Linked DNA regions of Homo sapiens: region 2 is linked to region 1. The links come from fine-mapping of genetic effects on gene expression. Tissue or cell type: whole blood. Region 1 holds a variant in brackets; the other region holds the start of a gene. All regions are shown on one strand. Distances are from middle to middle. Region 1 overlaps WDFY3 (WD repeat and FYVE domain containing 3). Region 2 holds the start of WDFY3 (WD repeat and FYVE domain containing 3).

Region 1 (16,483 bases):
GGAAAAAATATGATAAAAACAAACGAAGAAAATAGAAGATAAACATGTTGACCAGTAACTCATTCCCGGATGCCCGAAATACAGAGAATTCCTATTCAAATAAACAAGTAATAAAATGGACTTTTAAAAGATAAATATTAAGCATCCTGTGAGGAAAGGGTCATAGGAATATAAAATTAGAATAGAGGTAAATAATTGCCTGGCAAGAGGGAAAGAGTACATGAAATTAATCTCCAATGTGAGATGCATTTTGCATTGTGTTTATTAATGAATAGGGAGTAGTTTTTGGAAAAAGTGAGTTTCTCAGCACTTACATTACACTTTGTCTCCTTAGGGTAAGGCCCTCCCTAGTAATTGACATTCTGCAGTGATTGTATTGCAGTATAAGCTGAGTACATTTGACACTTTACTAACCATCTCAACTCTTGATTTACTTTTTCATTCAGTGTGTTTATTCAGTGTCTACTTTGTGTGCTGAAACTATTTTTCTTTTTTGAGTTGGAGTCTCCCTCTGTTGCCCAGGCTGGAGTGCAGTGATGCTATCTCCGCTCACTGCAGCCTCCGCCTCCTGGGTTCAAACGATTCTCCTGCCTCAGCCTCCCAAGTAGCTGGGACTACAGGCGCATGCCACCATGCCAGGCTAAGTTTTTGTATTTTAATAGAGACGGGGTTTCACCGTGTTAATCAGGATGGTCTCGATCTCCTAACATCATGATCCACCCGCCTTGGCCTCCCAAAGTGCTGAGATTACAGGTGTGAGCCACCTTGCCCGCCTAAAATTATTAAGATGATGAGATGCTATTACTTCTTTCAAAGAGTTCATATACTAGTTTAGCCTATATTAAATAATGTAACCTTTTTTTTTTTTTATTAAACTTTAAGTTCTGGGATATGTGTGCACAACATGCAGGTTTGTTACATAGGTATACATGTGCCATGGTGGTTTGCTGCACCTATTAACCCATCATCTAGGTTTTAAACCCCTCATGCATTAGGGATTTGTCCTAATGCTCTCCCTCCCCTTGCCCCCCAACCCCCGATAGCTCCCAATGTGTGATGTTCCCCTCTCTGTGTCCATGTGTTCTCATTGTTCAACTCCCACTTATGAATGAGAACATGTGGTGTTTGGTTTTCTGTTCCTGTGTTAGTTTGCTGAGAGTGATGTTTTCCAGCTTCATCCATGTCCCTGCAAAGCACATGAACTCATTCTTTTTTATGGCTGCATAGTATTCCATGGTGTATATGTGCCACATTTTCTTTATCCAGTCTATCATCAGTGGACATTTGGGTTGGTTCCAAGTCTTTGCTATTGTGAATAGTGCTGCAATAAACATACGCGAACAGCATCTATTTTTGAGATGTCATTGGCTTCCCACCTTAGCCACAGTATTTAGAATTCTTTATTATCTACTGCACTTGTTCTTACTGCAGTTCTGTTGGCTTATAAGGGGCCTGAGGTAAATATATTTACTTTTGTCCTTGAGTTTTCGACTACTTGGTAGTTTTTTTGGCGGTGATCCCATCTGTGGCTTGATCTTTAGCTAGGAATCAAGGTTGTAGAGAAAGCAGAGGAAACAACTTTAATGAAGGTGTAATATTAATAACAAAAGTAGATTTTGGAGAAAGTGATAGGAGTCCCATTTTTTGGCACTAAAGAGAATTAGAAATTGAATAAGTTTCATAGAGAAGAATTCAGCATTGTTCAGAAGAGGCACTGATTTATGTGACTAGATATATATACTCTTTCATTGCTCTGATATACCTTAAGTTTTGCATTAAGAAATTGCTTCTAGAACTCTTGGGAATCAGATGGCCTTTTCAATATGCTATAATCTAGAACATATTTACAAAATGTAATGTAGTCATTGTCATTTCTCCTATTTTAAAATTTATCTGGTGATTGAAAAATAAATTTGGGCGTGTAAATGTGTGGGATTCTTTCCTATATTATGTTATTGTTTTAATTGTACTATACTGCCAAGTTTCCAGCTTATGCCATTTAGAAAATAACTTTTTTCTTTTGTATATTTTCTGTTTTAAAATTCTGTGAGCTTGCTTACCTTTTCCATATCTCAAAATTTGATAGAGCTTTGTTGTATTTGTGATATGGGAGCACATGGCCAAGTTGTAGAGTAGGGCAGAGGTAACTATTATGCAGGACAGACTAGAATCAGTCCACATTTAAGGTATAGTGCTGCATGTTAAGGTCAATCTAACCTTAACTAACTACAGGCGCTGAGGAAAAGTTCTTTTTGGTAGGCCGTGCCAGGGGTAAACAGCCAGAGAATAATTCAGTCAACCTATTAATGGGAATTCAAGGGGAAGAAGCATATGGAATCTGAAATAGGAGGGTGTGTGTGTGTAAATGACGAAATGAATGCAAACATACATGCTTATATATGTATGAGTGGCCACCAGATAATTCTGTCTGTGGGTACTGGACTCTAGCTATCAGTCCTTGGGATTGGGAATTTAAAGTAGACTGCTCAGTCCTAGGAAGAGAAAAGCCAGGAAGGGATCAGACTAGGGACCTCCAAAAGTGTCTAAGCAGAAGCTTAGTTATAATAGCTGAGCTATAAACAGGAAAAGGACAGCAGAAGGGGAAGGAGTAGAACAGGGTAGGCATCATAACGAGCTAGAAATCCTAACTATCTAATCTGCAGTATGAAGGCTGGGTAATGTTAGTGATGACTTGATCCAGAATTAAAGATTGGGGCGAAACTGCAAAAACATCTTCTATCACAAGTCCGTATTGGTGATCTAGGATTTAAGTGACAGGCGAAGCCAGGCACTTGGAGAGCAGAGACAGGCTGGGCTTGACATTCTTTGATGAACTACTAAGTATCTTTTTTTTTCTATATACTATTAAGTATTGTTGATCAGTAATCATTTAGTCTGCTTTATTGGCATTGGTATGGCATCACGAGATGCAAAGAACTGCTGATGCCTCATACTAACGTCTTAACAGGGAACTGCTGCTAAAATGAACAAACTTACACACTGAAGTAAATATGCTTTCTTGTGAAATAGGAGGATATGAAAAAGCATGTTAGGCATGAGGGTTCTCATGTCACACTTTGGAAGGCAAAATTACCCTTTAGGAATTTATTTTCTGAGTTGGATAAGAGGAAGCAAGGAAAATGCATGATTATGATAAATTGACCTTAAAATGAGAACCTCCACACCTTTCATTTACTTCCTATAAAAAGTTATAGTAGCATTTTTTTGGTTGCAGTCAGTTGACACTTACTAGCTTGAGGAGGGGAAAAGGAATTAATGGGACTCATACTGGGAATGGAATGATGGATTGAACAAGTGGGTCTTGAACAGAAGATATCAGAGTTGCTTTGAGGATCTCATTAGCAGGAATTTTATTTATTTATTTATTTATTTACTTTTGAGACAGGGTCTCACTCTTTCATCTAGGCTGGAGTACAGTGGCATGATTATGACTCACTACAGCCTTTACCTTCCAGGCTCAAGTAAGTGGTCCTCCCTCCTTAAGCCCCTGAGTAGCTGGGACTTCAGGCACATGCCACCATGCCTGGCTAATGTTTTTTTTTTTTTTTTTTTTGGTAGATGTGGGGTTTTTTGATATGTTGCTCAGGCTGGTCTTGAACTCCTGGACTCAAGCGATCTTGACTGCCTTGGCTTCCCAAAGTGCTGGGTTTACACGTGTGAGCCACTGCGCCCAGCCTAGCAGGAATTTTTATTTTATTTTATTTTATTTATTTATTATTTTTATTATTATTATTATTATTATTATTATTTTTGAGACGGATTCTCGCTCTTTTGCCCAGGCCGGAGTGCAGTGGCACAATCTTGGCTCACTGCAACCTCCACCTCCCGAGTTCAAGCGATTCTCCTGCCTCAGCCTCCCGAGTAGCTGGGACTACAGGCCCGTGCCACCACACCTGGCCAATTTTTTGTATTTTTAGTAGAGCTGAGGTTTCACCATGTTAGCCAGGATGGTCTCCATCTCCTGACCTCGTGATCCGCCCGCCTCGGCTTCCCAAAGTGCTAGGATTACAGGCATAAGTCACTGTGCCCGGCCCCTAGCAGGAATTTTTATACCTTCTTCCTAGACTCCTGCTATTAAGGTGACTTTGCTGTAAAGATTTAGTCTCTCTCTGCCTTGCATCTTCAATTTATATATTCCATCAAGAAAGGATTAAATTGGCCGGGCACGGTGGCTCACGCCTGTAATCCCAGCACTTTGGGAGGCCGAGGCGGGTGGATCACAAGGTCAGGAGATCGAGACCATCCTGGCTAACACAGTGAAACTCCGTATCTACTAAAAATACAAAAAAATTAGCCAGGCGTGGTGGCAGGTGCCTGTAGTCCTAGCTACTAGGGAGGCTGAGGCGGGAGAATGGCATGAACCTGGGAGGCAGAGCTTGCAGTGAGCGGAGATCACGCCACTGCACTCCAGCCTGGGCAACAGAGCGAGACTCTGTCTCAAAAAAAAAAACAAAAAATGAAAGGATTAAATTAACCTCGTTCAGATCAGGTGTCTGTCTGTACTAGAGCCAGGGTATGCAGACTTATGATGTATAGCGCGCTAGGAATATACCTCGGTGCTGGGGGTCATTCCCAAAGAAGGGGAAGTCAAAAGCTGGGCAGCCCTCCTAGGTGTCTAGAACATCTCACTCTTTGGTAGCTTAACCACTGCTTTTCCTGTCTCTTTCCCTTTGCTTTCCTCCCCACTAGTAGAGATAACCCTGCTATCCCATGTATTGATGCAGTTTTTCCAGTGGGAGAAAAGCAAAAAGCAAGTTGAAGTACCATATCCAGAGGCAGTGCCATAGGGCTACTGACTCTGAGTGATATCATGCTGCCTCCTGGTTCCATTGTGATTCTTTCTTGATATTTTACAACCTAAATTTAACTCCTGCCAACTTGCCATCTGCATGCTTGAGGGAAAGGAAGAGGAAATAAAGAGAAAATGTATTTAAAGGGAAAGAGAAGGGTACTTATCACACACCAGTGACTATTAAGGAAATAAATGGTGGCCACAGTCCTTAGTTTTACATCTGAGCACAAAGCCCTAACCTGTTTCACTTCAGATTACATATTTCTGTTACCTTCTGCTAGTGTCCTGGCTTATCAGGGTTCTGTTTCTAGGAAGCTAACTCAGTCCTTCATTCCCAAAAGGGTCTGAGGTTTGGTAGTTCCAACTGTATAGAATTGTGATAATCTTTCACTCACATTAACACTGTGTACGGCACTGCCAGAGAATATGAGATTCCCCCAAGTTCTTTTCTCATGATCTTCCTAGCCCCAGGTGTGCAGTAGCAACCTGTCTTCTCCTTGATGGTCAGGAGCAGTCACCTCTGTCAATTCTATAGCCTCCATTTTTGCTTGTTTTTTTATTGTTATGAGGAAATAAAACTCTGCTTTCAATTGAGTGAAACAGTTATTTTGTTTCTTGGTATAAGTATTTCATTCTTGGGTACTAAATAAAATTTCTAGATCAACAGATTCCAGAGTTCTTGAGACAAGAAGCAGAACTTTGAAAGCAGATGAAATATACCACCTCCACCATCACCACGTTCCCACATCCAGTGTGTTCCGGAGATGGGAGGATGGGAGACATCATATATTAGTGGGTGGTTCAGAGCTTATTTTATGTACTATAGGACAGCACCCCAATATCAGAAGGTTTCAGGTGGCGCAACAACTTGCATGTCAAGCTTCAAAATGCCATTACTCCTCTGTGAGGACAGCTGTGTCTGAATAAGAGTCTATTTGATAAGACTAGTGAGGTCCCTGGGCATCTGCCCATCACCATTTGAAGTGAGTTCCTGGATCAGAGGCCCTGTGAGTGTGATTTATATGAAGCATTCACTTAATCTTGAATGGTGGTGCTGGCAGAGACAAATTCAGAATTGGTGTTTCTTATAGTGAAAAGCAGCCATCACCATTTCTGTAATGCAAAGGGTTTGTTATAATTTACCTGCTAAGAAGTAGTCTCTCTTTGGGGGACTCAGGCAAATGTGTTCTCAACAGTAGTGACAGTGACATCAGTCTTAATGAGTTCGTGCAGATTTGCCCTTGCATAACTGCTTCTCCTTCCACCTGGTGGTTTTCATGAACCTATTGAGCAAGGACCAGGCTGGCTGGAGGAGTATGAGTTGGTCTGTGATGTGGGTCATCTTATCCACTCAATTACTAAGAGGCTTTGTATTTTGATTTGTTAGCAGAATTCTGGTGAACATACACATGGGACAGGAATTTTTTTAGGCTGTGACCCTGTTGTGAGAGGTTCATTCAAGTAGCTATTCTGAGAATCTCCCTCTTTTTTATCTTTTGATCTTTTCAAGGCCATTGATCATGACACAGAAAAGGGAAGGATTATAAGCTTTCCAGCTACTCCAGGAAGTGTCTACTACAGAAGTAATAATATATTCTATAAGTTCCCAAAACTTAAGACTTTCAGCCACATCCAGTGACTATATGTATTATTTATTTATTTATTTTTATTTATTTTTTTGAGAGGAAGTCTCACTCTGTTGCCCAGGCTGGAGTGCAGTGGCGTGATCTCGGCTCACTGCAACCTGCCTCCCAGGTTCAAGCAATTCTCCTGTCTTAGCCACCATGCCTGGCTAATTTTTTGTATTTTTAGTAGAGACGTTGTTTCACCATGTTGACCAGGCTGGCCTTGAACTCTTGACCTCAGATGATCCATCCGCCACAGCCCCACAAAGTGCTGGGATTACAGGCATGAGCCACTGCACCCAGCCTGTTTATTTTTTGATACACGGTCTGACTCTCGCCCAGGCTGGAGTACAGTGGCAAGATCTTGGCTCACTGCAGTCTCCTCCCTCAAGGTTCAAGTGATTCTCCCACCTCAACCTTCCAAGTAACTGGTACTACAGGTGTGCGCCACCATGCCCAGCTAATTTTTTGTATTTTTTATTTTAATTTTTTTCGTAGAGAATGGGTTTGTAGAGGCTGGTCTTGAACTCCTGAGCTCAAGTGATCCATCCCCCTCAGCCTCCCAGAGTTCTGGGATTACAGGCATGAGCCACCATGCCTGGCTGATTTTTGCTTCTTAAAGTTAGGAGTGATAATTTTGGAATAATTAAAGACTAATAAATAATACTTATATAAAGCTATTTATTCAGTCAGCGAAAAGATATTTAGAGTCTTATTGTTTGTTTTAGCATATGTATTTGACAATCAGGTGCTTATTGAAAATCATTACACGAGTTAGTTTTTCATGTAATTATACTTAAGTTGAATTTCTTTGCTTTCCCCATCAACCTAAAGTTTCCATTTAAAATTTGCTCTATAATTAACAAAAGTGCCATATATCCTAATCTGGAATGTTTATAATTCA[G/A]AGGTCAAATTGGAAGAGGGAGGCCTTCAACAGTTACTCTTCCTTGCTAATTTTAGACTTTATGTCTGTGCCTCTGGTAGGGACCCAACACAATGAATGGCTCATGACTGGTAGTGTAAAGACTTATTTTCCAGTTTTTAGTATGTGTAGGCCAAATTGTATCACCCTTAGGCTATTTACTAGTTGATGATGATTTTGTCACCTTTAAAGAGCAGTTTTTTTTGTTTTGTTTTGTTTTTCAATAAATTTATTCAAGTACAGTTGATCTTTGAACCATGTTGGGGCTAGGGGAAGTGACCTCCTGTGTAGTTGATCTGCATATAACTTTTTTGGTTTCCCCAAAACTTAATTACTGATAGTGTTACTGATAACATAAACCGTCGATTTATACACATCTTGTGGGTTATATGTATTATATACTGTATTCTTTTTTTTTTCTGAGACGGAGTCTTGCTCTGTCGCCCAGGCTGGAGTGCAGTGGTGTGATCTCGGCTCACTGCAAGCTCCGCCTCCCTGGTTCACGCCATTCTCCTGCCTCAGCCTCCTGAGTAGCTGGGACTACAGGTGCCCACCACCACGCCCAGCTAGTTTTTTTGTATTCTTAGTAGAGATGGGGTTTCACTGGGTGTTAGCCAGGATGGTCTCGATCTCCTGACCTTGTGATCCGCCCGCCTCGGCCTCCCAAAGTGCTTGGATTACAGGTGTGAGCCACCACACCCAGCCATATACTGTATTCTTACAGGAAAGTTAGTTAAAAGAAAATGACATTAAGAAAATCATAAGGAAGAGAAAATATATTTACTGTTCATTAAGTGGAAGTGGGTCATCATAAAGGTGTTCATCCTCATTGTCTTCACACTGAGTTGGCCGAAGAGGAGGAGGAAGAGAGGAGTAGTTGATCTTGTCTGATGTGGCAGAGGCAGAAGAAAATCCACATATAATTGGACAACACAGTTCAAACCCATGTTGTTCAAGTTTACTGTATATACGTAAGTAAAAGTAAACAAATTGTAAGTTGAAGCTTAATGAAATTTCTCAAAATGAACATGCTTCACCATTTAAAAAAAAATAAAAAGGTTAGCCACAGACTGGTAAATATACTTGCAAAACATATACATACTTGGCAAAGGATATGAACCAGAATATATAAAGAACTCTCACAATTCAATAATAAGAAGACAAAGAACCCTGTCGAAAAATGAACAAATAATTTGAACAGATATTTTACCGAGGATATGTGAATGACAAATGCATGTAAAATCTGATGATGTTAAGTTTGGTAAGGATATGCAGCAACTAGAAGTTTCTTCTCATTCATTCCTGGTGAAATGGTATAGCCATTTTAGCAAACAGTCAACTAGTGTCTCATAAATTCAAACATATTCATTAGGATCTATAAATTCCATTCCTAAGTATATCTATAAAAGAAATGAAAGCACATGTCCACAAAAAGGCTAATGTTCATAGCAGCATTCAAAATGTTTTAATTTGCTTTTCATAAATAATGGTAGTGAGCTTTCATTGCTTGTTTGCTGTATGTATCCTTTTTTTAAAAGTAAGTGTCGACATCTTTTATTCTTTTTAAAATCAGTTTGCTTTTTTTTTATTGTTTAAAGAATTCATTATATATTTTGGGTTCCAGTCTGGTATGTGTTTTACAAATACTTTCTCCCAGTTTTTGGCTTAATTTCATTTTTATAACACTGTGTTTTGAAGAGCAGAAATTAATTTTGGTGATGTCCACTTTGCCCATTTTTTTCTTTTATAGTTTTTACTTTTTATATCCTGTTAGAGAATTTTTTGCCTAACTCAAAGTAACAATGATTTTCCCCGAAGTTTTCCTCTGGAAGTTTTATAGTTTTAGATTGTACATTTATGTCTGTGATTTGGTTTGAGTTAAATTTTGTATATAGTGTGTGATGTGTGGGTTGACTGAAGTTTTTGTGAGTTTTATTTATTTATTTATTTATTTTTGGGTTGTGGATATCTGATTACTGTAGCACTGGCTAGTGAAAAATTTTTCCTTCCCTATTAAATTGCTTGACATCTTTGTCAAAAATCAATTGACCATGTTTGTGTGTATCTGTTTCTGGAATTTCTGTCCTTTTCCATTGATCTAGGTGCTTTTACCACTGCCACACTATCTTGATTACTGTAGCTTTTTAGTAAGTCTTGAAATCAGGTAATATGAGTCCTCCAATTTTGTTTTGTTTCCAAATCGTTTTGACTATTCTTGATTTCTTTTTTGTGTAAATTTTAGAGTCATCTTGTTGATTTCCAAAAACGAAAGTCTACTCTAATTTTGATTGGGATTGCATTGAATCTATAGGTAAATATGGGAAGAACTGATTCCTTGAATATATTGCCTCCAAATCCATGAACATAGAGTATCTCTCTATTTACTTAAGTCATCTTTGGTTTATTTCATCATTGTTATCAATGATTATCTCATTAGTGATTATTTCATCATTGTTTTATAGTTTTCAGTAGACAGATTTTGCACAGTTTGTTAGAATTACTCCTCAGCATTTCATGTGTTTTGGGTGCTATTATAAATGGTACTATCTATCTATCTATCTATCTCTTTATCTATAACTTTTAGTTGTTTCATTGTTAATATGTAGAAACACAATTGATTTTTGTATATTGAACTTTGTATACTGCAGTCTTGCCAAGTTCCCTTATTAACTTAGGGAGGTTTCTTTGGTAGACTCTTTGGGGTTTTCTATCTATATATATAATCATGCTGCCTGGAATAAAGACAGTTTTACTTCTTCCATTCCATTTTTGCCTTTTATTTATTTTTCATGCCTTATTGCACTGGCTAGGATTTCTAGTATATGTTAAAAAGAGAAAGCATTCAGTCTTTCTTCATTAAACATGATGTTAGCTATATCTGTTTTAAAGAGGCTGTTTATCAGGTTGAGTAAGTTTCATTCTATTCCTGGTTTAGTAGAGCTTTTATCATTAATAGATGTTGAATTTTGCAAGTGATTTTTAAAATATCTATTGAGATTATATGGTTTTTAATCTTTATTTTATTGATAATGGTAAATTATGTTAATTTTTTGAATATTGAATTAGCCTGGCATTTCCAGGATAAATGCACTTCATCATGATGTAATACCCCTTTTATATGTTGCCAGATTTGGTTTCCTTATATTTTGTTAAAAGTTTTTGCATTTATGTTCACAAAAAATATGAAATTTCTAGTCTTTTTTTCTCTTAATCTCTTTGTCTGGTTTTGATATCAGGATATTGTATCTTATAAAAGGCTTTGGGAAGAGCTTTCTTCAATCTGGATTGTGCTGGTTAGTATAAACAAGAATATATAGTGTGCTATCTTTTATGTAAGAAAAAAGGGAAAATAACACATACATATATATGCTTGACTTTACAAAAAGAAGGGGTAGTGAGAGGTAATGGGGCCAGAGGTTTATGGGAGGCAATGACACTTCAAAGTAAACCTTTTTTTAAAAAATATAGTTTTGGCTTTTCATAGTGTGTTTTTTTCAGTATTCAAAATAAGGACGGAAATGGGGAGAATCCTAATCCACTGAAACAAATGAACCTGAATGTATTTTAAATTAGTATTGTACCCCCATTGAGGGAACAAAGAGTAAATCTAAGTAATTTATTACTAATAACATGGTGCTATAACTATAACCATATACCGTCAGCTTGGGTAGAGTTGAAAGAGACGGGTTGCAGGCAACTCTTGAACTCATTCTATTAGGTTTACTTTTCATAGTGATATGGACATAGCACTTCTGGGACTTTTTAGGTGTATTGGGGATTGAGTAAATGTTTTGAGGTTGTTGGAGTGAGGGTTCTCCCTGAAGAAGGAGAGACACACAAATATGGGGTGGGAGAAGGCATAATAAATTCTGTGCAGGTGGATTGGAATTGAAGGTATCAGTGAGTTCATGATGTTTTAAGCCAATATATATGTACATGTAATTGCATGTACAGACATATGTACATAAATTTGTATGTGTATTTGCATTCATACATTTCCTAGCTCTGTCCAGTAAAAGGGCTAAGAGGCAAAGAGCATACCTAACTCCAAATTCTTGGAATTAGAATTCTGTAATACCATTCTCAAGTCAAAGGAACCAGAGCTCCTCACAGAAATAGATGATTCTAGGATAGGGTAGGGCACATACCATGTGAGCCTGGATTATTTTTCAATGCGAGAAAATAGAAACTTTTTTTTTTTAAATAAGAACATGTCACAAGAAGCCTATTGGCATTCCTGCTAGCCAAATTTGAGATAATTTAATAATCAAGTAAGTATAATAATAAATTATGAACCATTAGAAATAGGAATAAATCCATAATGATAATAAAAATAAGTGAATGAATAGAGGAGAAAGGAAGGCTCTTTCTTCCAGTAGGACTCTGAGCTTTAGAGTTGGAAAAATCATTATTTTGTAGCTAGCGTAGTAGATATTAGGTAGGGCAAGAGTCATAACTAAATGAGGGAGAAATTTTGATGAGAAGCAGGATATTTTCGATGTCTTAAAGCATCACCCCACAGACTGTGTACTAATTGCAAGGGATAATATAGTGATTATGCATTGGTGCGATCCAACAACAATATGGGGCAGATGGTCACCATGTGACTCCAGATAGGACACCCTGAGGGGACACATCATCTCCTCTGTAGTATTCTGGCCAAGACTGCATAACCTGAATTTAATCACGAGGAAACATTCGACAAGTGCAAAATAAGGAATGTTCTACTTTAAAAAGCGGGGAGGGAACTGTGGTCCTTAAAAAAGTCAGTGTCATAAAAGAGAAAGAAAGGCTATGGAAGTGTTCCAAATTAAAGGAGGCATAGAAGAGAGAACCACTAACAGTACCTGACCCTAGACTGGATCTTATACTGAATGGGGGAAAATATACCATGCAGGATGTTATTGGATCAATTGAAAAATTAGAATATTGGAATATAGACCATAGAATAGATAAAAATATTGTAACAATGTTATAATTACTGAAGTTGATCACTGTGCTTTCCTTATAAGAGAAAGTATTGCTAAAGAAACACACATTGGAAGAAGAGGAGGAAAGGGCTTGATGTATATAGTTTATTCTCATTTGCTCCAGGAAAAAAAGTGTATGTGTGCATGTGTGTGTATGAATGCAAGAAAGTGTAAAAGCTCAGGAGCACAAATGTAAAAGTAAAGAGGTGACATTAGTAATGGCTGAATCTGAGTATGAGTGATTTTTGTATTTTTACTAACTTTTCTGTAAGTTTGGAATTATTTTCAAACAAAATATTGAAAACATTTAAAAATATCTGCCCTTTATTTTTAGACTTTCCTCATTTATAAAGAGCTTGGTTCTTTCTCTGGAACCAGTTTGGAATGAACATTTTTGTAATATTTTCCTGTGTGCTGGTGTTACGGCCCTGCATGCCAACCATTGTTAAATATGACAGCAGTTAGTGGGAAAGAAATGAGTCATTCTGTGGACGGCCAGAGTCTAAAACCTAATAATAAGGGGAACTATTTGTTAATTTATCAAATTTATGGAAGTATCAGTTACAATGTCTAATAAAATATTTTGAGGTTATCATCATTATCAATTATCTTTTGAAGAAATTTTAGAATGATTCTTTTACATCAAAAATCTAGTTGTTGTCCCCCAATTATTTAGATTATCTTGTTTTATAAACTAGGAAAGATTCCCATTTTTAGCCTTAAGAGAGTAACTGTTTATTTATTTTAAAAAATGTTAATTGGATGCCTGCTATGTGCCAGATTCTTTTTTAGGCATTGGAGCTGTAGCATTAAACTAAACAAAACCATTGCCCTCATAGATTTTACATTTTCATGGAAGGACATAGACAAATAGGAATAGAAGGGAAATACACCTGTCAGAGTATCGCAGTGCTTATATCCAAATAACCCTTATTTTACTTAATAATGGCCCCAAAGCATAAGAGTACTATGCCTAATTTATAAATTAAATTTTATCACAGGTATATATGCATGGGGAAAAATGTACTGGGGGTCTTGGAACATATCCAACCCCCAACCCACACAGATAAGGAAGGGTCTACTGTAATCATCTCTTGGAAAAGCATATAGGGAGAGAATAGCAAGTATAAAGGCCCCAAGGCAAGGATGTGCCTGGCCTGTAAAAAGAATGGCAAGGAAGTTGGTAGGAAATGAAGTCAGGGGTAATAGGGGCCAAATTTTATAGGTTCTTTTATGTCATTTTTTAAAAAAATGGCCTACTCTGAGTGAGATGGGAAGCCACTGGGAGATTTTGGGAGCAGATGTTATACGATTTATGATTTATGTTAGGTTGTCTGGATCACTCTGGCTACTTCGATGAGAAAGGACTTGAAAATAGGACAAGGGTAGAAGTTGGGAGACCAGTTACTAACCTATGGCAAAAATCCAAGTGAGGGACAATACAGACTTTGACCAAAATAGTAACTATGCAAGTGGCGAGAAGTGGTCAGATTCTCAGTATTTTTGTAGATAAAGTCAATAGTACTTGCCAGTGGGTTAGAGAAGAAGGCTAACAACCTAAACTTTAAAGGTCAGGGAGAAGAGGAGGAACTAGGAAAGAACGCTGACAAGGAGAGGTCGATGAGATAGGATGAAACCAATAGAGTTGGTTCTGGAAGCCAATAAAAGAAAGTGTATCAGCATGTGATATGTCATGCCAAATGCTGCAGATAAGTCAAGAAAGATGAGAACTAATAGGCCTTTGGATTTAACAATATTCAGGTAATTGATGACCTTGAATTTCAGTGATGTTGTGTAGTAAAAGTCTAATTGGAGTGTGTTAAATTTGAATGGAAGTATAATTGTAGACAAGGAGTACAAGCTTGTGATGTTTTGCTAAAAAAGGAATCAAAGATATTGGCCATCATCTAGAGGCATATAAGGAGTCGAGAGGTTTTGTTGTTTGTTTTCTAATGATTGGAAATGTATTTGCCAGTGATTTTGCTTTATTGGAAGGAGGAAATTGATGACGTAGGAGAGAGAAGTGGGATTTCCTAGAGCAATGACATTGGTGTTCTAGGCATGTAACATCTAGTAGCAAAGTAGAGGGGTTAGATTTTGATGTGAATCCTGAAATTCAGTGAAAGGGTACAGATTCAGGTGGGGAGGTAAATGTCATGAGAGATTCTGGAAGTTCTCTTCTGATTGCCTGTGGCTTTTGAATTTTTTTTTTCTTGTATGATGCATTTCATCAGATTACCTGGCAGGAGTCCTGGGAGGCCTTAGGAGGACTCTAAAACTGCTTGTTAAAAATTTTGAAAATTTATTTTTTGTTATTATTTAGTTTAACTGGCTACTTTGTATAAAGTTTGGAAAGAGACTCCACAAAATCTTTCTGGGCTATTTGGAAAAAAATTTTCTCATTGATCTTCAAGCCAAATAATTTTTTTTAAAAGAGACAGGGTCTTGCTATGTCACCCAGGCTGAAGGGCAGTGGCACGTTCATAGCTCACTGTGGCCTCAATCTCCTGGACTTAAGTGATCCTCCTGCCTCAGACTCCTAAGTACCTAGGACTACAGGTGTTTGCCACCATGCCCAGCTAATTTTTAAATTTTTTGTAGAGATGGGGTCTCACTATGTTGCCCAGTGTGGTATCAAACTGCTGTTCTCAAGTGATAGTCCTGCCTCAGCCTCACAAAGAGCTGAGATTACAGGCGTGAGCCACCACTCCCCACCCAAAGAGTATGATAAGACCCAGCACAATTTCCATTTTAAGTATTAATATAAGAAAACCAACTCAGAAGACATAGATAGGCCAGGGAGATATAGCTAATCATCTAGCTAAGTCTGGAATTCAGGTTTCTGTGGCATTTCAATGTACACAGTTTAATTTCAAAATTTAGTTTTTATACATATGTGCATATACATTTAAACTTAATCCTCTGACAATGTAACTGACTTACTCTAAATTGGAGGCAAGGAAAGCATGAAGTAAAAATATGTAAAATGTCAGGGTCAAAATGGGAACTTTAAATTGTGGTCTTAATTGTGACCTGTGTAAAACTTGATTCCTGAGAATTATACTATATTACATATTGTAGTTAGAATGTACTGAAATCATTTTGTAGCATTTGTTCTTGGCTGAGTTTATATTAAAATGAAAGATTGTAAATCTAGATTGATTTTATAATATTTTAGATTTCTGATACTTTAAGATGTCTGTAGATTACATTTATATTAAAAAATGGGTTGAGGAAATCATTGGTACTCTAACTTGCTGTTGCCAGTTTTCTGGCCGCCTGCTATTTTTGCTTCTGCTCCCTTATCTCAACAATTGCCTGTTTTTGGTCAAGACTGGTAAAACCAAGTAATGGGCATCCAAATACATATAAAATACACATGAAACAATATGAAAATGGCAAATAAGTCAGGAGGAAAATGGGTAAAATATATGAATAGGCATTTCATACGAGAGAAAATATGAGATAGCCAAGAAACATGAAGAAATACTCAGCATCATTAATTGACAAGGAAGTGCGAACTAAGACCACAATTAGATGCCATTCTATACCCAGCATTAAAAAGTTGGCATTACTACACGTTGGAGAGGCTGTAGATGTGGTAGTTCTGCTACTACCTTTTGGTAGTGAAGTTATAAATTGCCAAACACACTTTAGGGAAAGTAAAAATTGGCATCATCATGAAAAGTTAAATTTAAGATTACTCCCTAACTCTTAGGCATGTACTTAAGAGAAACTCGGACACATGTGGAACATGACACATGTCAGAACTTTCATAACATAAATGTTCATAATAGCAAAACAAAACTTGGAGGGGAAAATAAGCTATTGACAAGAGAACGGATAATTAAATTGTGATATATTTGTACAATGCAGTATTATTCTGCAGTGAAAATGAATGAACTACAACTATATGCAACAACGTTGGGTGAGTTTTAGAAACGTAATATTGAATTAAAAAACCAAATCCTACAAGACAGGAGGATAGATTTTGATACCGTTTTGATAGATTTCAGAACCAAGCAAAATGGAACACTATATTGTTCAGGAAGATGTACCTATGTGATATACTGTTTAAAAAGCAAAGTAATGATAAATACAAAATACAGGATTGCGGTTACAGGGGGTGGTGGGGATAAGAGAGGTGGAGCAT
Region 2 (16,483 bases), 26 kb before region 1:
TTTTCAGCTCTCTTTTTCTTTTTTTTTCTGTGTTATATGTATTTATTCCTTTTTTCTTTCTTTCCTGTGTATTATTTCTTTTTTTTTTAACCAAGTTTCAGTGCTTGCAGTTTGTCATTTCAAACCCTTAATTTTCACTATCTCTTAATTTTGCTTCATATTTCACTTTTTGGAGAAATATTTAAGGCATTTAAAAAATTATATAAAGGTTGTCTCATAGCCTTTGCATATTTGAGACCGTCTTTCTGTTGACCTTTACCTATCATGACTATATATAGATGAAAATACAATTCTGTGGTTAAAACTTTTCCAGCCTCAGATCAGTCAGTATAGGCTTTTGGATGTATTGACAAATGATCCCCAAATTTCAGTCATTACAACTTCAAAGCTTTATTTTCAGTCATGCTACTATTTCCCTGCAGGTAGGCTGCAGCTCTGTACCACATCACCTTCATACAAGCACCCAAGCTGAGCATCTAGAATACTGCTGGCTGTCTGGCATAGGGCAAAAAAAGCATGGCAGATGATATCCTGGCTCTTAAGTATCTGCTGGGAAGTAATGCAGTCATTTACACTAGTATTTAGTAAGTTGCAAAGTCAAGCTATGTCAATAGGCATGGAAGTACAACTATCTTTTACAAGTGGGCAGCAAATATTAGTAAACAATAATGCAATTTATTATACCTGCATGTGTTCCAGACATTGCTCTTTATGCTGGTATATCCATTCATAAGAAAGAAGGTTAAATGAAGACTATTATATCTGAGATGGAGGAAATAGGAATAAGAATCAGTTTAGGGAAGATGATAATTGTAATTTTAGAGAGTTGAATATAAAGTATCCAGTAGGCAACTGGATATGAGACTGAAAGTGTTGGGAAAGGTCTGGGTTGGAGATATTAATTTATGTAATCAGTGTAAAGAACTGAATTCATTAGAATTACTGAAAGGAGTGATAGAATGAAGGTGTCACCTTAGAGCACTATCTGTAAGGGGCAGGTAGAGAATTTGAGAGGAACCAGGAAGAAGGGACTAGAGAGTATCAGGGAAAAGAGGATCATAATTGCCAAAATAAGGACAGAGAACTTCTAGTATAAGATGGAAGATATTACTTTATGTTGAATTAGGAGAACACTGATGACTTTGGTAAGAGCAGTTTCAACAGAGTAGTAAAGTTGAAAGCCAGTAACAGGTAACTGAAGAATGAGTATTAGAGATTTAAGTGGAGAAATGAAGTATAAATTGAGCACTCTTTAAAAACTTCAGAGAAAAAAAAATGGAGATTGGGAGATTTTCCCCGCATCTGAACAATGAAGAGACTTGGAAGTATTTAAAGGACCAAGAATCGTGTTTGTGTGTGTGCATGTATGTGTCTGTGTGTACTTACATATTCATTCTTATTTTGTAAATCGGCAGAGGGATATACAAGATAAAATCACTTGGAATTTTTTTTTTTTTTGAGACGGAGTCTCACTCTGTCACCCAGGCTGGAGTTCAGTGATGCAATTTCCACTCACTGCAACCTCCACCTCCCGGGTTCAAGCGATTCTCCTGCCTCAGCCTCCTGAGTAGCTGGGATTACAGGCACCCACCACCACGCCCAGGTAATTTTTGTATTTTTAGTAGAGACAGGGTTTCATGATGTTTGTCAGGCTAGTCTCGAACTCCTGACCTCGTGATCCGCCCGCCTCGGCCTCCCAAAGTGTTGGGATTACAGGTGTGAGCCACCACACCCGGCATAACTTGGAATTTAAAACCAAAATTAATCAACATAGCTATCTTTAAATTGTGTAAAATCCATGCAATTATAGTTAGTATTTAATGTCATGGTATGTGCATTAGTCTGGGTTCTCCAGAGAAATAGAATATTAGATAGATGATAGATAGATAGATAGATAGAGAATAGATAGATCGATAGATGATTGATAATACATAGATAGATGATAGATAGATATATAGATAATACATAGATACATAGATTTATCATAATGAATTGGCTTAGGTGGTTATGGAGGCTTAGAAATCCCAAGATCTGCAGTTGGCAAGCAGGAGACCCAGGGCAGTTGATGATATAGTTCCAGTCTGAGTCCAAGTATGAAAGCAGGATAAGACTGATGTTCCAAGTCAAAGACAGTCAGGCAGAGAGTAAATTCTCCCTTACTCCACGTTTTTAGCTCCATTTGGGCCTTGGACAGATTGGATGAGGTCCACTTACATTGGGGAAGGCAATCTGCTTTACTTGGTCTGCTGAGTCAGATGTCAATCTCATCCAGAAACATCCTCAAAGACACACCCAGAATGATGTTTAACCAAATATTTGGATATTTCATGGCCCAGGTAAGCTGACACATAAAATTAACCATCATAGTATGTCGTTAAATTAAACTTGGATTTATTTTTTTTAAAATGAGGCTGGGAGTGGTGGCCTATGCCTGTAATCTCAGCACTTTGGGAGGTCCAGGCAGGAGGATCGCTTGAGCCCAGGAGTTACAGACTAGTCTGGACAACATGGCGAAATCTTGTCTCTACTTAAAAAAAAATTTTTTAAGGAAAATGAGTGATATTATATACATAATATAATTGATTTTATAGAGTCTCACTATGAATTCAGAATGATTTAATTTCGTGATAAGCCAAGTAAATATAACTCTATTTGTTTGTGACTGGTTTTATCTAGAAACACAAGCTATTGAGGAAAATTTTTAAATAAAGTAACTGTAGGTTTTGTGCTTGGTTATTTTGTTTGTTATTGTGTCCCTCTACCCCATCCCATTATCTGGAAGTTTCAAAAGCACAACAGCAAAAAAGGAACTTGATTTTTAAAGATTATATAATGGTGGCAGAAATGTCAAGAGATAAGGAAGAGCAAAAGAGGAAACACAAAATATTGCAGTGATAGAGAAGATCTCAAAAAAAACTAGGTCAATGTTTGACTTCATTCACAGTTGCTCCTCAAATATGACATTGCCTTGAGGATAGAGTGCCCTCAAATTAGCACACATTCTGATTAGGAGAGCAGGGTCCAGTAGCCAGTGTTAAAGGAAACAAACATGTTTTCTAGTCTTGTCATAACACATGAAATAAACAGGAAAAAAATATAAATTAAATGTGTTTGGAATCATCAATAATCCAGCATATTTTATTCATTCCTTAAATGTGTGTACTTTGTTAAGTTATGATAGGTGTCAATTGCTTGATTCAAAACTTCTCTACCATGATGTGGAATAATTTTATAATGTAAAATGGTAGTACCAAAACTGGACCAATAAAGAGCCAAAACACAGTCATTGTCCTCACTGAATTTATAGGCATAAACCACATAACATAAAAAACTATAAAACTGCATCTGTGATTAGTGCTATGAAGGAAAATTGAGTGGTTCTATGAAAAATTTAATGGTGGGATTTGTGACTTAGTTCAGTGAAGACATCGTTAAAGTAGATGAAGAATAGAGGCAGGTAATCGATTGTGCAAAGGCCATGTGGCGAAGGGAGCATGTCAAGGAGAAGGGACTGAACATGCCAGGGTAATAGCAGTAGAGGAAGTGCATTAAATTATGGATCATGTCGACATTCGAGAGGTGGATGGTTGGCCAACTATGCCAGGTCCTAAGAACCACTGAAAATCTGTAAATGGAAACAATGGATTGGAAGAGATTCAAGTGACTGTGGGTAGACTAGATAAAAGGTTATCTCAGTTGAAAATATGAGACTAGGGTAGTGCCAGAGAAAATGGGAAGAGGTGTTCATGTTTGAGAGTTATTTGGAAGTAAAATTGGCAATCATTGGTAATGGATTTGATGCAGGGAACGGGAGAAATTGAAGTGTTATAAACCTTTTGAGGTTTCTGAGTAAAGCAATACAACAAAAACTCCACTCAGATGGAAAGCTCAAAATACAGTTCTTGAATAAGCCCAAGGATTATTTATAGTAATTGAGGACAGGAGCAAATACTTATTAGACTGTAATTTATATGTGTTGATAATAATTTGTGTGCCCCACTGGAGCAGCAGGAGGTACTCCTGTACCATCTTGTTATAGTTCTTAAGACATTATCATTCCTGGTTGATATCTTTCTCTAGACTGTGAGCTCCATAAAGGTGGACAGTAGGTTTTTATTATATCTCTTGCAGGCAATCTAGTTTCTGGCACAGCAATCACTCAAATATTTGCAGAGTGAAGTAATTAGGTCATGACTTAAACTTTACATTATTTTATTTTCCAAATTATTTTTACTGTAGTTATACAATTTAAATGTCCTTTTTTTTTAGACAGAGTCTCACTCCGTGGCCCAGGCTGGAGTGCAATGATGCAGTCTCGGCTTGGCTCGCTGCAACCTCCGCCTCCCAGGTTCATGTGATTCTCCTGCCTCAGCCTCAGCTGGAATTACAGGTGCCCGTCACCACACCCAGCTAATTTTTGTATTTTTAGTAGAGACGGGTTTTCACCATGTTGGCCAGGCTCGTCTCAAACTCCTGACCTCAAGTGATCTGTGTGCCTTGGCCTCTGAAAGTGCTGGAATTACAGGTGTGAGCCACTGCACCCAGCCTTAAGTAAGTTTTAATGTAAAATTTTTCTATATTCAAAATTTCCAAATAATAACTTTATTTCCTCATTTACATTTAAGCCCTATTATTGCTGCATTACTAATTATGGTCAGAATTACCTGTTTGAATAATGATAACAACCACCACCACATGCTAGTTGTGATGATTAATTTTAGGTATTGACCTGACTGAATTAATGAATATATAGCGAAGTGATAAAGCATAATTTTGGGGTGTGTCTGTAAGGGTGTTTCTAGAGGCAATTGGAGCGTGAGTCTCAGTGGACTAAGTGGGGAAGATTCACCCTCAATGTGGGTGGGCATCATCCAATCAGCTGGAGGCCCAGATAGAACAAAACAGAGGAAAAGTGAATTGGTCTCTCTGTCCTGAAGTCGGGATACACTCTTCTGCCCCTGGACATGAGAATGCCAGGCTCTCCAGCCTTTGGATACCAGGACTCACACCAGCTCCCCTCTGGGTTCTCAGGCCTACATACTTGGAATGAGCCACGCTACTGGCACCCCAGGGTCTCTAGCTTGCAGATGGCCTGTTGTGGGACTTCTCAGCCTTCATAATTGCATAAGCCAATTCTAATAAATCCCCTCTCCTGTATCTGTATCTATATTTTATTGGTTTGGTCTCTCTGGAGAACCCTAACTAATACAGTAGCATAGGATATAGTCCTAGGTGTCCATCTAGGAGACTGAGTAATTTTGTATCACCCAGCATAGTGCTTTTTAGCATACTTTAAAGAATTATGGAATAAATTAACAGACCTCTCGCTGGTTACAGATGGTAAAAGACCAACTAATTTTTCATTCTAGTCAGCAGATGGCAGTGTTTTACTTTATTTAGCTAACTGAGGTTTGTTTCCTGAGTCTTGCAACACTCACTTTTAACTTAATCCATGAAATAACACAGTATTTTTGAGTTAACTTTATACTTTTTGAACCATAAATAAATGTTATAGGAGTTGTTTTAGGTTTTTAAAAATCGCACATTTTTTAGTCAACTTGAGCTTTCTTAAGCTATCTTTAAATTTGCTTTTTACATTAATTGCAAACAATTGCTCTCATTTTTGTAAACAGGAAAACCCTGTTTATTTACTTTATTCCTTAGCTTTATTTCTAAGAAAGGTCAACGCTGAACATTAATTCTGGAAATTAAGTTTAAATTATATTTAACTGAAGATGGCACAGTTAAAAGTTTCTTTGGTTGAGTTTCTCTCCTCTAAGATGAGCCCTGTCAACTCTGAAGTTATGGGACTTGAGACTGAGTCAGGAGACCTGGATTTCATTCAAATTGCTACAAAGTTTGCACTAGATGATCTATAGTGAGCCATTTGAATAATTTTTCACCAGAATTTTTAATGAGTGAAATATGCTCAATGTGTATACTACTATACAGTCGACCCTTGAACAACGCCAGGGTTAGGAGTGCTGTTGCCCTCCCTGGCTGCTGTGCAGTTGAAAATCTGTGTGTAATATTTGAATCCCCAAAAACTTAACTACTAATAGTCTACTGTTGACCAGAAGCCTTACTGATAACATAAAGCTGATTCACATATATTTTGTATATGTATTACTTATCTTTACAATAAAGGCAGAGAAAAGAAAATGCTATTAAGAAAATCATGAAGAAGAGAAAATATATTTATTATTCATTAAGTGGAGAAGGATCATCATAAAGGTTTTCATCCTCATCATCTTCAGGTTGAATAAGCTGAGAAGGGGAGGAAGAGAAAGAGTTGTTCTTGATGTCTCAGGGGGGTGGCCAAGGTGGCAGAAAATCTACATAGAAGTGGATTTGCATATTTCAAACCTGTGTTGTTCAAGGGTGAAGTGTATTTATCTTGTAAAAACATTGTAAATATACTGGTTTTAAAAGTCTGAACTCTCCATAGAGAAACATAAAGGAACTGAAAATGAAGAGGACCTTTAACTTTAAGTAGAAATAGAATTTATTAATAACAAAAGTCTTCAATCCCCCATCTCTATTATAATGCTGATAATTATGATGAACAAGGGCAAAACGTGATACTATTCTGTTTCCTCCTGTGAGCCTGTTACTCTTTAAAGTTTAAAGAAGCTTTATTACATATTACTTACTTAAGTATAAAGAGAAACAATACATCGAGCTACACACATGCCTCTTCCCAAAACAAAACAAACTCTCCAATACCTCTTTTGAATGTATTTATAAGAAAAACAACAGAAAAAATCTCTAATTAGAACTTTCTAAAAGCATTTCTCCCCAATTAGAGTGCAGTAATGACTATAAATGGCACTGTCTCAGGGACAGCTCATCAGTTAATTATAAGTAGTTCTATAAATTGAGGAGTGAAGAATGATACTAAATTTCAATCAGTGCAGATAAATATGGCTTGTCATTATTCAATTGATATTTTTGACAGTCCACCTAAAGAGGAAGATGCAGAACAGAAATATTGTCTTTTCTAAAGAATGGAGATTATGAGAACATTTACCTTAGACTATATTCTTGTCTGGAATATGGTTTTCATAGACACTCAATTCCCATGATCCCCAGAGACTTTCATTGGCTTGCCCAGTTTCTTTCCATCTGGTCCTTTCAAACCAGGAAAAACAATATGGTAATTCTATTGTTGCGTCTAGTAGCCTGGAAAAATGGAAATGTATATTTAATATAATATGTAATATAGTGGCTCAGTAATTTTTAAATATGTCAATTAACACTTCCATTCTTTTTGATTTTTGTGTCCCAGCATCATTTAGCACTCTATGTTCTGGAATAAATATCTCAAAATTCTATAAATTACATATGCTCATCTCTGGGATAATGCTACCTGACCAAGTTTAAATTATTTCCTGTATAGTCTTAAAAGCAAACATGTTAACAAAAAGTTAACATAAAGAAAATAATTGTTTAAATAGCAAACTGTTAATATGTATTATTTAACAATTTTCCAAAATTGCTGTTTTCTATTATTTTTTCTTCCTCTTACTTTTAGATATTTTTCATGAACCTTTTATCTCCATTTTCCTTCCTTTAAAATTATGTTTCACTCATTCATGTTCATAGAATTTTCAATCATGTTAAAAGCAAATATGGGTTGTTTGCTTATTGTCACAGATAGCCTCTTGGTTATCATTCTCCACAGTCACCTTATTCATGAATTGTAAGTTGGAGATCAGCCTCCCAGTGCAGAACTGTTTAGAAATAGCCCTTCATGCTTGCTCCTCTATTCCCAGAGGAGTTTGCTGCACATGCCTAGATCTCTTTCCATCTGGCCTCTGCACAAAGGGTTTATCCCACTTTAACACAATTCTTTGTTTTATAGAGGACCTTGACTTTATCTGAGAGTGAATACATATGAAACAATAATCATGTTGCAGGAAAACCTGATTTGATCATTTTTTTTTCGTACTTGATTCCTAAGATGACAGTGAAACTACAGTTAGCCAGCAACAAAGACTAAAGGCTGTAATGATGACAGAGCTGTAAAAAAGTAAATGTGAAGGGTCTGATTTTTCCATTATTACAGTACTTACGTTTATGTGGCTTCAGTAAAAAAGAAAAAAAAAACTTGGTACATTTATTTTTATGTCTATCACTGAAAAACCTTTGTGAGTTTGTAAGACATTAATATGAAAACGGCTGCTTTTGCATACTGATAGATTTGTGAACTTTATTGCAATATATGTTTTAACAGAAAAATATAATTATAGTATTTTAAAATGTAACTCTTCCTCCCTCAGTGTAAATAAAATCACAATGACAAGAGTCCTGAAACCTCTAACTGAAAATCTTCCTTTAAAAATGCATGGTGGTCTTAATGTTTAAAAGAAGTCAGCCTATTTTCGCAGTGTATATTCATGTTATCTAACGTTCTTTTTTCTCCAATTATTATACATACAGTTTTATAAGTGAATATTTAAGAGTCAAGAATTTTGTGGTATTTTGCCTAGAAATAGACTGGAAGAACACAAAATCTAAATAAAGAATAAACACCAAAAGGCCAAAGGGAAAGAACAAAAAAAGTACATGTACATGCATATGCACACACACACCCCCACATAGGTGCTTTGTTTTTAATAATTTATTTCAAAACGTATTGTACAATGCTGTCTCAAATACTTTATTTGGGTTTAAAAGAGTTGTAGATGTTAGTATAGGTTGTTGATTTCAAATGGAAAAATTATTGGCATTGAAAGATGGCAACTGAAATCTTGAACCTAACAGTTAATTAAGGTTACTTCGTGAGGATTAAATATTAGAATTCTGCTCCGCCCCCCACCAAAGGATACCGGTATTTTTACTAAAATATATTTTTAGGTTTGTTTTGGCATATTCTTTTCAAAGAGATTTGAAACTCTTAAATTGTTATAATTACAAAATCTTATATTTGAACTTTCAAAACATTACTCATTTTGAAGTAGAATCTAAAACTACATTTAAAAACATTTCTGCCCACATTTGGTCTGTTTAAGGGACTAACCTTTGAACACACTAGTCTTATTTTGAAAGGGCAAGGTGTTTTTTTTTTTTAATAGCCAGTGCCCCACAGAAGAAAAACTGTGACACCCCCCCCCCACAAAGTGCTCATATATATCACCTGTGTTTGTTAGCAATGTTACCTCCAACTTTGTTATCTTGGAGTAATTGACGAGTAAATCATTACAAATGGGTCCAACTCTAAAGGCAAAATCGTCAAAAAGAAGAAAACAGCAAATCCAACTTGCCTTATGTTTATTAGAGGAAATCCTGAAACTTCTGTAGATTGCAGTGTTAGGAAAAACAAGTTTGTGATTACAGCGATGTTATGACCACTTCCCCACTCTAACTCTGTTGTTTAAGGGAGTCCACTCCTAACTGCTGACTCAGTTTGTCTTTACTGCCAGAACTGAAGCGTGACCCAAATTGTCTGCTGGGTTGAGTAGGAACAAACGGGCAAAATGATGATCACTTGGCAGTTCTAGGTTTACTAAAGGATACTTATTTGGTCTAAACACTGTTTGTGGGACTGCAAAGGTATAAATAATGCCCCTCCCAGGAAGGAAAAGGAAAATCTAAAATCTTAGGCAACCGACTCAAGGTCACTGACGGAAGGCACCATTTGAGACCGAGCTCCTCAACTACAGTCCCATCACGGACGGGAGCCACACAGGAGAGCGTGCAGGAGTTTCGAAGCTGCGTAGTACAATAGCTGGCGTGGGCAGTTCTTTTATACTCTGGCTAGAGTAAAATTAACGCACCTTTGCGTTTCTCCATCGCCTCTGACAGCATCCAGCTAAAGGGTGTAGGGTTAAGGAAAGCGGAACCCAGTTGTCCTTTCTCAGCTGAGTCCTTTCAGAAACTGGGACTGAGGAGGGTGAGCGCCGCGGAGAGGGGCAGGGGTGGGAGAGGAGAGAGGGGCGCGGGGCGGGGAAGAGGCGCGTCTGGAAGGCAGTGGGGAGAGGGACTGAGAGGAGTGGGGTTGAAGTCCAGCTGGGAGCATCCAGCGGCGCTGTCTGCAGACAGGGGCGAAGGCAGCCGCTGAGAGTGAGGCAAGAGCGGGAAGCCGAGGGAAGGGAAGGAAGTAAGGAAAGAGGAAGGAAAGGCAGGAGGGGGTAGAAGCTGAGCGGCTGCAATTTCTGCGGCCGGCTCAGTAGGAGGAGCAGGAGGGGAAAGAGGAGGATCCAGTCAGTCAGTCAGACAGCCAGCGGGAGGTGGAGAAAGCAGGAGGAGGAGGAGGATTAAAGATGGCCACCAACAGCTGCGGGAAACGGCAACAACCCCTCACTTTCCGGGATGGTCCCTGCGGGTCGGCCCGGCCTTGATGGAGAGAAGAAACCCGAGGAGCGCCGAGGCTGAGGCGGCGGCGGCGGGGACCCAGCGAGGACGAGGACGCGGCGGAGCAGGGACGGGGGCAGGAGAAGGGAAAGGCGGCGGCGTCGCTGCCCCTGCTGCCTAGCACCGCTGCCTGGCCCGGCGGACCGGTTCCCATACCTCGCGGCCGCAGAATCGAGCTCGGGCCCCGGCCCCCGGCCCGCGGCGCGGGGCTCCCGGGCCCCGCCGCGGACGTCGCGCCGGTCGCCCCTTCCCCGTAGCCCGTGCGCCCTCGGCGCGGAGCCCCGGCCCGCCGCGGTCCCGTCTCCTGGGCCTGTCCCGCCCGCGCCCTCCGCCGGCCCTCAGGTGAGTACCCCCGCCATCCTCCCCGCCCCCCGCGCTCCCGGAGAGGCGGTGCTGCCTCGGCCCGGCGCGCCTGGCCGCTTTGTTCGTGCGGGGCGGAGGCGCTGCCCACTCGCGGCCCTGCGCCCGCTCCCCCTAGGGACAGGCCGCGGCCCAGCTGCTGTCCTCCCCAGGGTCCGCCTTGGCCGGGAGCCGCCGCCGCCGCCAGGGTGGGCGGCCTGGCCCTAGTCCTCCGCTGCCTCCTGGGGAGGGCGCCGTCGCGGACGGGTCGGGGTCGGGGTCACGGGCGGCGAGCGGAGCGGAGCGGAACCGGGATATTTCGGGGGATAGGGGAGGAGAGGGCTGGACGTTACCTGTGGGAAGCAGTGGGGGCGTAGGCGGCCCTGGCTCGCAGGGGTAGGGGATCAGGCCCTGGCCCCCCCCCGCTGCATCCTGCGGGGTCTCAGCTCCCGGAGCCACCCGGACCTGAGCGCAGCCGAGCGCGGCCTCCATCCCTCGGGCGCTGTCTCCAGGGCTTCGGGCCTCTCCCCCTACGCCCTACGCTGGAAGCCCTTCGATTATGGAAGGAGCCAGAGATGCTCCAGTTCTCTTGTACTGGGGATGTGGTGGCATCGCAAACATTCACAGTTACGGCGGGATTTAAGAAGCAGATGAGACCTTTCCAACCAAAGGCCATCTGGCTAGTGTTTGAGCCTCAGGTGCAGTTTTTCATTGATTTTTACCATTTAATTGTGAGATCTGCAATATCAGGTCTTCCTTTCACAGAAACAATGTGATACAACCAGATTGAAAGGATATTTACTGCATATGTGAACCCTTGCATGGACTTCCAGTACCTTAAAAATGGTTAAGTGTTTTCTGTTGGAAAATGGTGCTCATGCATACGAAAAACTATTTTTGTTCAGTAATGGTTGCCAACTGGTTTACTATGTAGTTTGAACACCAAACAATTAAAAAGGAAAAACAAAACCCTATTCTTCGGGCTTTTTAAATAGTGGCATATTTCCAGGTTGGTATTTGGTAGCAGGTTGAGAACAACTGGTTTCGACTATCAGGCGACGTAACAAACATAACATAAAACAGAACTAAAAATGTGCTAATTTATAGAAAAACATGTTGTATTAGTGCATAAGTCTAGTAAAAAAATCCGACTTTAAAAAAAATAAAACTTTATCATGAGACTCTTAAGTATAGGAATTAGGTTGGTATGTTTTTATGTTTAAAAATATATATTGCATTAGAATTGAGAACTCTTCCTATGATATTTGAGCAATAGTAAAGTATGTTAATACTTTGAACCATTCTATCTCAAGCTGCTAGAAAGAGGTTTCTACTGCTAGTTTCTTTCCATGAGTTAAAATGGATTCATCTGAAATATATGTATGCTTTTGGTGGGTCACAGTGGGTCATGCCTGTCATTCCAGCACTTTGGGAGGCCAAGGCTGGGGGATCACTTGAGGCCAGGAGTTAGAGACCAGCCTGGGCAACAAAGAGAAAACAATTTTTGTAAAGAAAAAAAAAAATGTTTCAAAAAATTTGTATCACCTCCAAAAAGGAGGGATAAGTTAGAAAATACAATGTTCTACTCTTGCATAATCTGTTTTTGAAAAAGTAAATGACAGTATATTTCAATATTAGTTGGATTCTCTGCTTTGAAGAGATTCTTAAATTCCACTGCTCAACTTTGCAATTTTAAAAGTTTACATCAGTTGTTCTTAATTTATTTATTTATTTCTTTTTTTAGAGACAGGGTCTTGCCCTGTTGCCCAGGCTGGGGTGTAGTGGCACGATCACGGTTCACTGCAGCCTTGAACTTCTGGGCCCGAGTGATCCTTCTCCCACAGCCTCCCAAGAAGTTAGGACTACATGTGCATGCCACCATGCCTGTCTAATTTTTCTATTTTTTGTAGAGATGAGGGTCTCCCTGTGTTGCTCAGGCTGATCTTGAACTCCTGGCCTCAAGTGATCCTCCTGCCTTAGCCTCTCTAAGTGCTGGGATTACAGATGTGAGCCACCATGCCCTGCTTCTTTCTTAATTTCATGCATATACTTCTGAGGGTCCTTGGCTTCCCAGAAATCATATGCAGAATATAGCATATATTTGCTTTTTTCCTAGATAAAGACTCTGTTGGGTGATCACATTCTCAAAAGGATATGGGTCTGTAAAAGATTATGAACTTCTAGATATAAAATTAAAGAATACATATTCCATATTTGGAAAGCTAAAATTTTTAAATTACATTTGATGATTTATGTCCTTCATTTCTGATTATGCCCAAGAAATGTTTGTGATTAAGAGTTCAGCACATAGACGTTGTTTCTAACACATTCTCATTTAAATCGAAGGAAAATATTAATCCCATTTTACAGATGGGGAAATAGAACAAGTTGTTTTAAAGTCATACAAACACTGGTGGGCCAACATGTGAACCCAGACTGTCTGAAGTTAGAGCCAGCATTCATAAACAGGGTATACTAGACTTTGATCGGTAATACCATTTGATTGATGTTAAAATAAGTAATTGATGTTTTAGTTAGAATTGCAAAGTATATCTGAGATTATCATAGCATACAATATCATAAGATTTTAGAGCCCTGGACCCCCAGTATGAAGAGATCTTAATGATACTAACCTCTGTTAATGATGCTAGTCTGAAATCACACCCGAACTAGGGTCATTTCTACAGCATCTTTGGCAGGATCATCCACCTCTGATTTTAGTATTTCCTGTGATTACGAATTTCCCCTCTTCTTTTTTTTTTCTTGACCTTTTTTTTTTTTTCTTTTGAGATGGAGTCTTGCTGTGTTGCCCAGGCTGGAGTGCAGTGGCATCATCTGGGCTCACTGCAACTTCTGCCTCCCGGGTTTCGAGAGATTCTCGTGCCTCAGCCACCCAAGTAGCTGGGACTATAGACCCTCGCCACCACGCCTGGCTAATTTTTGTATTTTTAGTGGAGACGGGGTTTTACCCTGTTGGCCAAGCTAGTCTTGAACTCCTGAGCTCAAGTGGTCTGCCTGCCTCTGTCTCCCAAAATGCTGGTATTACAGGCGTGAGCCACCGTGCCAGGCCGTTTTTTTTTTTTTGTTTTTTTGTTTGTTTGTTTTTACATTTTAAATCTATATTTCTATTTATGTCGAGTCAAAATCTGCCTTCCTGATATTTACACTGATAAATCCAGTTCCCCCTTGGTGTGTGTGGTGTATTTATCATCCATGAAATGATTAAGAAATAAATGGCGACCGGGCATGGTGGCTCACACCTGTAATCCCAGCACTTTGGGAGGCCGAGGCAGATGAATCACCTGAGGTCAGGAGTTCAAGACCAGCCTGGCCAATATGGTGAATCCCCGTGTCTACTAAAAATACAAAAATTAGCTTGGCCTGGTGGTGTGCACCTGTAGTCCCAGATGCTCGGGAGGCTGAGGCAGGAGAATCGCTTGAACTGGGGAGGTGGAGGTTGCAGTGAGCTGAGATGGCGCCACCGCACTCCAACCTGGGTGACAGAGTGAGACTCCATCTCAAAAAAAAAAAAAAAAGAAATGGCTCCTACTTTAATTTTTTAGAGTAATGTTTATTGAAGCATAATTTACATGTAGTGAAAGTAAAAGTTTAACAAATGTCTATAATTGGATAGTCTCCACCACAGTCAAGACATAGAAAAGGACGTTTCCGTTACTCTAAAAAGTTCACTCATGCCCTGTCATGAGTCAGTCCTCTACCTCTACACTCCCAGCCCCTGAAAACCGTTAATTTAATTGATGCTCTTAAAGTTTTATCTCGTCTGGCATATATAAATGGAATTATACATTATGTAGCCTTTCGTGTTCCCTTGCACTTAGCGTAATGCTTGATATTTATTAAGTTGTTACATGTGTCAGTATTTTGTTCAGTGATGTGCTGGGAAATGTCTTAACAACATACTCTTCAGAAAAAAAAAAAGAATCTCTGATTTATAGCATTCGCTAATCATTGTAGTGTAAACACTGTCACTATGGCCTAAATTAAGCTACCAGCTTACAGAATTCCTGAAAATTTAACAATGGGCTCCCATGAGCTGGTACCAGCCAGCTCCAGCACAGTTCCTTTTTTTGTTGAGTAACATTGTTTTACACCAGGGTAACACAATTTGTTCATCCATTCATAAACTGATGGACATTTGAGTTGTTTCTAGTTTTGATCAAATATGAATAAAGCTGCTATAAACATTTGCATACAGGTCTATGTGAGGGACAAAAATGTTCAGTTTTCTTGAGTTAATACCTAGGAGTGGGATTTTTGAGTCCTAGGATAAGTGTATATTTATTAATATCAGTAACCTTTTTATTGAACTACTGAATTGTTTTCCTAAATGGTGATATCATTTTACATTCCTACAGCAATATCTGAGAGTTTCAGTTGCTTTACATCTTTATCAGCACTTGGTATTGTCAGTTATTAAAACTTTAGCCATTTATTATATGTGTAGTGATCTCCTTTAAATTTTTTTACTCTTATTTTCAGTAGTGTTTAGACTCAGTATAGAAAGTTTATGATAGATATTTATAAAAAAATAATTTTCTTTAGCTTGGGCATCAGTTATGATCTCACTATGAAGGCTGCAGCCTTTAAAGGCTGTTTGTTGAGTTTTTACTGTGCACTCATCTTTCATGTTGTTAAAATTACTTTTTGTAAAGGAATAATCATTAGGGAATTATTCTAATGCTTAGCTGTTAGCAATTTAAAAAATGAACCATTTTAAACAGGTAGATAAAGCTTTGTTTAGAAAATTAGAATTAAAAAATTTATCATAAAGAATTTTTTTTTTCAATTTTACTTGGACTTAAAGGGAAAAAAAGATTCTTTGTGGCTCCCTGTATGCCAACAATTTGCTTTGATGGGATTTCACCAAGTTCTGTAAACTCATTGAATTGTTCTTTATTTTAAAATCTTGAGGACTGTCAAGTTAGTTACTACTCTTTCTGAAACCACAGTATCAAAATCTTTTTTTTTTTTTTTTGAGACAGAGTCTTGCTTTTGTCACCCAGGCTGGAGTGCAGTGGCATGATCTCAGCTCACTGCAGCCTCCACCTCTCGGGTTCAAGCGATTCTCCTGCCTCAGCCACCCGAGTAGCTGGAATTACAGGCATCCGCCACCACGCCCGGCTAATTTTTGCATTTTTAGTAGAGACAGGGTTTCACCATGTTAGCCAGGCTGGTCTCGAATTCCTGACCTTGTGATCCGCCCGCCTCGGCCTCCCAAAAGTGCTGGGATTACTGTGCCTGGCCAAAATCTGTCTTTGAAATTTCACGTAGTTTTAGTGTGGACAAAGGATTAAATTACACATAGCTCATATCAACATTTAATTTTCAGTAGTAGAATACTGGGTTGCCCCGTTGGAATAAGATATCATTCATTCAGAAGATGATATGAAATAAAACCCTTAGAAGAGTAACCTGCCAGTTGCAGTGGCTCATATCTGTAATCCCAGCACTTTGGGAGGCCAAGGTGGGTGGATTGCTTGAGCTCAGAAATTCGAGACCAGCCTGGGCAACATAGTGAGACCCCTTCTTTTTTTTAAAATAAGAAGAGTACCTTGTAAAATACATAGTCATGTTAGACTGTAAATAAGAATAGCTATATTCACAGTTTGAGTACCCCGTAATAATGAAAGATGTTTGTTTAAACATCTCAACAGTTCTCACGGAAAATAGATAATTTGTTCAGTCATTGATTCATACATTTGTTCGTATACATACACGAATGTCTTGTGCATGTAGTATTCAAGGTCCTTATCATGATAGAGCTTAC

The links. PIP is the estimated chance that this variant, and not a neighbour inherited with it, causes the effect.
Region 2: WDFY3 starts here. The variant in region 1 is fine-mapped to the expression of WDFY3 in whole blood (TOPMed, PIP 0.94).

Annotation. Positions count from the first base shown.
Region 1 is chr4:84,934,802-84,951,284 of GRCh38, reverse strand. All of the region lies in intron 1 of WDFY3 (WD repeat and FYVE domain containing 3), which reads left to right. Among named protein-coding and RNA genes, the nearest start is that of WDFY3-AS2, 23 kb to the left of the region's middle. The variant G/A (reference allele first, on the strand shown) is at 7,343.
Region 2 is chr4:84,960,424-84,976,906 of GRCh38, reverse strand. It overlaps WDFY3 (WD repeat and FYVE domain containing 3), which reads left to right and starts at 10,217. Exons shown (of 68, transcript NM_014991.6): 1 at 10,217-10,698. WDFY3-AS2 (WDFY3 antisense RNA 2) reads right to left here and starts at 11,291. Exons shown (of 4, transcript NR_152775.1): 1 at 11,049-11,291; 2 at 7,031-7,182.